2 linked regions of the Homo sapiens genome follow. The protein of the gene in region 2 purifies or fractionates together with the protein of the main gene of each other region. This does not show direct contact. Each region holds a gene or a part of one and is shown on either strand. Other genes may lie near its edges.

The links.
Region 1: the proteins of IL4I1 (region 2) and TMPRSS13 purify together in Homo sapiens (affinity purification with western blotting; one study listed by BioGRID). This does not show direct contact.

Annotation. Positions count from the first base shown.
Region 1 is NC_000011.10:117,912,138-117,915,955, reverse strand, and holds part of TMPRSS13 (transmembrane protease serine 13), read left to right. Parts: intron 1-1,441; coding exon 1,442-1,564; intron 1,565-2,049; coding exon 2,050-2,179; intron 2,180-3,818. UniProt on the Homo sapiens protein: Serine protease. Cleaves the proform of PRSS8/prostasin to form the active protein. Cleaves the proform of HGF to form the active protein which promotes MAPK signaling.
Region 2 is NC_000019.10:49,891,220-49,893,904, forward strand, and holds part of IL4I1 (L-amino-acid oxidase isoform 1 precursor), read right to left. Parts: intron 255-2,685; coding exon 186-254; intron 1-185.

The sequences.
Region 1 (3,818 bases), on a different chromosome or scaffold from region 2:
TTTCCCCACCAGTCTGACTGGGTGGGGTGGTCTTTGTCATAATGCACATAAAGGCCTCGGCATGGTGCCTGCTGTGACTTGCTGCCCTGCCCTCCCTCCCTTTCCCACTACAGGGCACCCTGCTCCATGAAAGCCACAGGACTAACCCATGGAGGGGCGAGATGGCACCCACGGGTGGGCTCACAGAATAGAACTAAAGCTCTCAGCGTGGTTTCACAGCATTTCCTGAAGTTCCCAAAAGCTCTGCCAGGGAGGCCTCTAGACCTCCAGGGCTAAGGAGGTGGCTTGACTTGTGCAGGTCACCAAGCAGCTACCTGGTGGGGTCAGGACTAGAGCCCAGGCCTCCTGACTCCCAACCCGGCCCAGTACCCTCTCCACTACACATCCACGTGGGGCTCCATGAGCACTCCAGGGGAGACTGCCCAGGGTTCCCCGGGGGTTGAGTGCCCAGGATATGGGAGGAAGACCAGGGCACAGAGAGGAGGGGCCAGCCCAAGAGATTAGGAGGGATTTGTGTCTGGACCTGGAAGGAGCAGTCACACCCGGGCGGCCTTTACCCTGGGTGATGGAGAGCACAGTGGGCCCCGGAGGAGAAGCAAGGGGTGGGGCTGAGGAGCTGGTGGAGGAGGAGCGGCAGGGTGAGAAGTTAGAACCCGGGTCTGTGAGGCAGCCAAGGGGAGGTGCCTCCAGGCAGGAGGGCCCACAGCCCCTGGTTTGGAAAGAGATTGCTGTTAGAGAGGGAGGAAGTCGTGAAGCAGATTTGCACATATGGCTTGTAAAGCTGTTTTCTTTTAGCCCCAACTTGTATATGTGGGAATCAGCCACCTAGAATTGCTGGTTGATTGAAAAGACATTTAAAGGCATAAAGACAAGTCATGGGGAAAGAACTGAGCATAGAGGTGTCCCTTGCGCAGGGGAGAGGGAGAAGCAAAAAACCTAGGAGCTTTTGAGGCTGGAAGGATGGTCGCCTTTGAGAACAGACAGACGGTGGTTGCCTGTGTGACTGTGAGGACAGAAATTTATCTGCTGTGACCCTGCGGAGCACAGAGAAGATGGGATGGCAGAGGGGTTCTGAGAGGGAAGCTCTGGGATACTGGAGGAGGTGGTTTCTCTGGCCACTATGTTGGCCAGCATGTAGGGAGGGGAGTTCCCAAGGTGGTCCCCATCTCCACAGCACTCTCTGTCTCTCTCTCTCTTTCTCTCTCTTTCTGGGTGGCTGGCTGCTTGAATCTGCCTGGTGCTGCCCTGCTTGCAGGAGCTTTCTGGAGCATTCTGGAGCATTCCTGAGCAGCCTTTCTCTCCATACAGATGGGGGATGAGAGCCCCAGAGTTCAAGAGGGATTGCAGGTCGGTGTCTCAGAACCCCCAGGTCCTTGGGCTGCTCAGTGTCTCATCTCAGTGGGGCTGGCCATGACCCAGCTGTCTGCTTCTTTTTCTCTAGTCCAGTTCTGGCAGGGCCACACAGGGATCAGGTACAAGGAGCAGAGGGAGAGCTGTCCCAAGCACGCTGTTCGCTGTGACGGGGTGGTGGACTGCAAGCTGAAGAGTGACGAGCTGGGCTGCGGTAAGGAGGCTGGGTGCGGGGGAGCGCGTGCGTGTGCATGTGCATGTGTTTGTGTGCCTGTTTGTATATGTGTGTGTGTATGCATGCCTGTGTGTGTATATGTGTGCGTGCATGTGTGTGTATGTGCATGTTTGTGTGTATGCATGTATGTGTGTGTGCACGTATGTGTGTGTGCATGTGTGCATGTATGTAATCCAGACCCAATGATTCCCTGTCCATTGCCTCCCATTTGAGCTGATACACAGTTTGCATCAGTCTGTAGCACTCTAGTGACTTTGCATTGGCTCTGTCCATGCTAGGCATCCTGGGCTTCTGAGTACTGGTTAACCCCCATGACCCAGGCCATGTTCCTGGACTTTTCCCAGGCCTCAGCAAGGAGTGCTGTCAGGACAAGCGCTTTCTCAAAGCCTCACTCAGCTCATCCCCCAAGAGCTTGATGCTTCCTAGGTGCTGAGGACCTGCTCTGCCTTTTTCTTGCCCTGCAGTGAGGTTTGACTGGGACAAGTCTCTGCTTAAAATCTACTCTGGGTCCTCCCATCAGTGGCTTCCCATCTGTAGCAGCAACTGGAATGACTCCTACTCAGAGAAGACCTGCCAGCAGCTGGGTTTCGAGAGGTAACCCCCAACCTGGCCCCAGAGTCCAGGCTTCAGGGATGTCTCAGGCTCTTCATAGGGTGTCTCAAGCATGTTGCAGAAACATTATATTAAAAAGACCCTTGGGGACCGGGGCTGATCTCACTAGCTCTGGACACCCTCGAGGTGTTCAGAGTCAGAGGCCCTGAGATCCTATGAGTCTGGAGCAGATTGTTTTCATGAGGCCAACATAATGATGTATAGATCTGCAATAGTATCAGACTCCTAGATGGTTCTTTGCATCAAAGCACGCTCACATCCATTATCACATTCACTGATCGTGGTGGTGGCCCTACGACTTGGGCAGGCATTTGGGCAGATCTTTTCTTCTTATATCTGGGAACTAGAAGCTCAGGTTGTGCAAAGCCTTTCAATGGACTTTGAGCTATAGCTACTGTGTCTTGAGCCAGACCTCATCAAATGGAGAATGAAATGGGGCAGGTGAGGCTAGGCAGAATCATAAGGGTCTTTGGCTCTAAAGATTTTAAACAAATCAGGCAGTGCTAACAGGTAGAGGAGGAAGTAGGTGAGCAATGACCTTCCACTTGAAGAAGTGTCTGATTTTCAGCCCAGACACGCATCTCCATCCTCCCTCTTGGACTGAGTTTTCCAGATGGGTAGTCTTGGGTTTATCAGTGTGTGTGAGGTTGTGGGGAGAGGAGTTTAAGATCTCACTGTGGGTTCTCTACAGAAGAAGCACCAAAAACACCTGGGGTGGGGTGTTAGGATTTAGAACATGTTCTCCACCCCACCTCAGCCTGTCCAGATCCATGAAAGGGGGATGGTAGTAATGCAGATGGAAGACCATGGGCATCTTTTATGAGTTGTGTGGCCTTATGCAAGCCTGAACCTCCTTTAGGTATTCAGGTCTTTGAATGTCACTTATTCAAAGAATATTCATTGAGCTTTTATCGTGTGCTAGATACTGTGTAGTACCTGGACACAAAGGAATAAGACAGGAGCCCAGCCTTGAAGGACCTCTAGTGTGGCTCAGTGAGAGAGACTTAAACCAATAACCACAGCACGATGTGACATGTAATGATGAGGATGTGGGTGAAGCACTAAGGGCATACAGTGGAGAGGGTGCCTAACTGCACTGGTGGAGAGAGCAGAGAATGGGCCCTCTGAGTAGAGGAGCAGCGTGTGCTAAGTGTCATGCCAGGGCGTCACGCAGGGGTGTACCATGTTCTAGAAATATACATATGTTCCATGCAGAGAGTAGAACACATTAGAATCACCCGCCGTGCTTGTGAAAATGCATCTTGGAATCAGAATCTCTGGGATTAGGACTTAGAACCTGCTCAGCAAACATCCCAAGGTGATTCTTAGGCACGCTGTGTTCTAAGATCCAGTGGGCTTGCCCAGAGCTTCTCACGCTTTAATGTACAGATCAGTAACCTGGGATTCTTTAAAATGCAGATTCTTATTCAGTAGGTCTGGGGGGGTTGCTGCTGCTGCTTATTCACAGATGACAGTTTGGGTAGAAAAGGGCAAGATTGGTGTTTCTCAAACTTGAGTGTGCATCAGCATCACTAGAGAACCTGTTAAAATGGTGATCGCTGGGCCCACACCCAGAGCTTCTGATTCAGAAGCATTGCTAATATTAATAACTTCCCAGGCA
Region 2 (2,685 bases):
TGTCCCCACTCTCTGACAGATGAGGGAAACGGAGGTCCAGACAGGGGGCGTGTCCAGCCCCCGGGTCAGGCAGGAAGGCGGTGGCAGGACTAGGGTGCCAGGTACCCGCCTTCTGACTCTCTGGGGAAGGCCTCATGGTCACTCTCTTTGCCCTGCATCTCAGCAGAACCAAGATCCCCACTTACCAAGAGCGTGTGCCTTTCAAACTTCTTCATCGCCTTTCTGCAGCCCAGTGCCTTGAGGTCTTTGAGGGCCTGTTGTGGAAGAAGCAGACATGGTGCTGAGCTGCCCGGGCAGCCAGGGTGGAGGCCGGGCCTGGAGCCCACACTCGGCTTCTCCTCGTGGTTCTGCCCACGGCTGGCCATTCACCACTCTCAAGCCCCTGGGCTTTTGCCCACACCATGCCCTCCGCCTTGCCCTCCACGGCAACTCAGATGCCACTGCTCCTCCGATATTACCGAACTGTTAACGCCGCCCATCCCCCCTCATTCGGCTGGCCCGGCTGGTCACAGCTCATCCCGGTTGCGTGTTATTTTGCCTATTTTTCAGCCAGCCAGCCAGACTGTGAGCTCCATGGAGGCAGGGATGTGGGCAGCTGGAGAGGAGACTGGGAGAGGGTCCCAGGCGTGCTGTGTCCTCCCGGGGGCTCAGTGATTATTTGTTGCCTGAATCACTGTGGCCACGGACAGAAGCTGGTCCCCTGTGCCACTGGTCAGTGCTGACAGGGCATGATGGCTGAGAAGTTTATCTACCGTCCGTCCCCTGCCCACAGCCCTCCTGTAGCTCCCCAGTGCCTGGAGCCACAGAATTCTTGCCCCTCAGCCTCATGTTCAAGGCCCCTGCTAGCCCCTCAATGTCTTTTTTTTTTTTTTTTTTTTTTGAGATGGAGTGTCGCTCTGTTGCCCAGGCTGGAGTGCAGTGGCGCCATCTCAGCTCACTGAAACCTCTGCCTCCCAGGTTCAAGTGATTCTCCCACCTCACCCTCCCAAGTAGCTGGGATTACAGGCGCCTGCCACCACACCTGGCTCATTTTTGCATTTTTAGTAGAGACAGGGTTTCATCATGTTGGTCAGGCTGGTCTCGAACTCCTGACCTCAAGTGATCTGCCTGCCTCGGCCTCCCAAAGTGCTGGGATTACAGGCGTGAGCCACTGCGTGCCAGGTACCCGCCTTCTGACTCTCTGGGGAAGGCCTCATGGTCACTCTCTTTGCCCTGAATCTCAGCAGAACCAAGATCCCCACTTACCTCAGTCCATGTCTTTTATGGCAGCTCTGGTTCTGTGAACAGTGTACAGTGCCCAGACCACCTGCCCTCAGGGCTCTCCCACCTACACATCTGGCACCTATTGTTTCCCTGCCTGTCTTTGCGTGGCACATGAGTGCGTGTTCTTCAGCACTTTGTTCGAATCTCACCCCCTCCCAGAAGCCTTGCTGCCCCCATCTAATTTCAGCCTTCTTCTTGGTCCACCTGGCTTCCCCCTTCTGGCCAGGACCTCAGAGGGAAGGCAGTGCCCCTTCACTCACTCATGCATCTCGCATCTCTCAGACTCCCAAACCAGTCAGTGTCAAGGCATAGAAATGACCTGGACATGGCCCCCATCCTGGTCTAGAAGGGGAGATGGGCAAGTGGGCTCTGACCTGGGTGGGGAGGGGATGTTGGGTGTGGCCAGTTCCTCCCTAAAGGTATCAGGGAAGGCTTCCTGGAGGAGGGGACATTGGAGCTAGTTCTTGAGGGCTGAGCAGGAGTTCCTGTGTGGGGAAGGGAAAGGCATTCTGGAAAGGGAGGGTGATACACAGGTATAGTGGGTGTGAGGAACACAGAGCTGGGGGCATGTGGACCACCATGAGGACAAAAATTTCTTAGAGGAGAAAAGAGCATGAGGCTGGAGGGGTGCAGAAGGGAAGGCCAGTCAGGGCTCAAAGCTGAGCCTGAAAAGATCAGACTTTGTCCTGGAGGCAGCGGGGAGCCACTGGGGGCTGTGAGCAGCATCACTCTGGGTGTGTGGGAAGACGTTTCTGGTACCAGGCTGGGGAGACTAGAGCCTGGGCAGCTTGAGAGGAGGCTGGGGGAGGGTCCAGGGCAGAGGAGGAGGCCTGAGCTGGGGCAGGCAGAGGGGAGCAGGGCACAAGCGTCAGGCGGCAGGGGTGGGCACTGATGGTGGGGGAGGTGGGCGAGGAGGAGGTCAGGAGGAGGATGGCTCCTAGGGGTCTGCCCGTGACTGCGGGATGGTGGGGCCATCGTGAGATGGGGGCACCGGGAGGAGGAACAGGTTTAGGGGAAGCTTCTGAGCCCAGTGTCCTGGGGAGGGACACAGATCAGGGTCTCGGGAGGCAGATGTCTCCATCAGCCCATGGATCTATGTTTAAGCCAGAGGTGGAGACTGGGGAGGTTATCCAGGACAGTGTGTGGGTGAAAGGGGAAGAGGCCAAAAGCTGATGCAGCTTTGGGGTCAGCAGTGTTTACGGGGAAGCTAAAGAAGGGAGTTGGGGCCGGGGGCAGTGGCTCACGCCTGTAATCCCAGCACTTTGGGAGGCTGAGGCAGGTGGATCACGAGGTCAGGAGTTCAAGATCAGCCTGGCCAAGATGGTGAAACCCCGTCTCTATTAAAAATACAAAAATTAGCTGGGCGTGGTGGCGGGCGCCTGTAATCCCAGCTACTCGGGAGGCTGAGGCAGAGAATTGCTT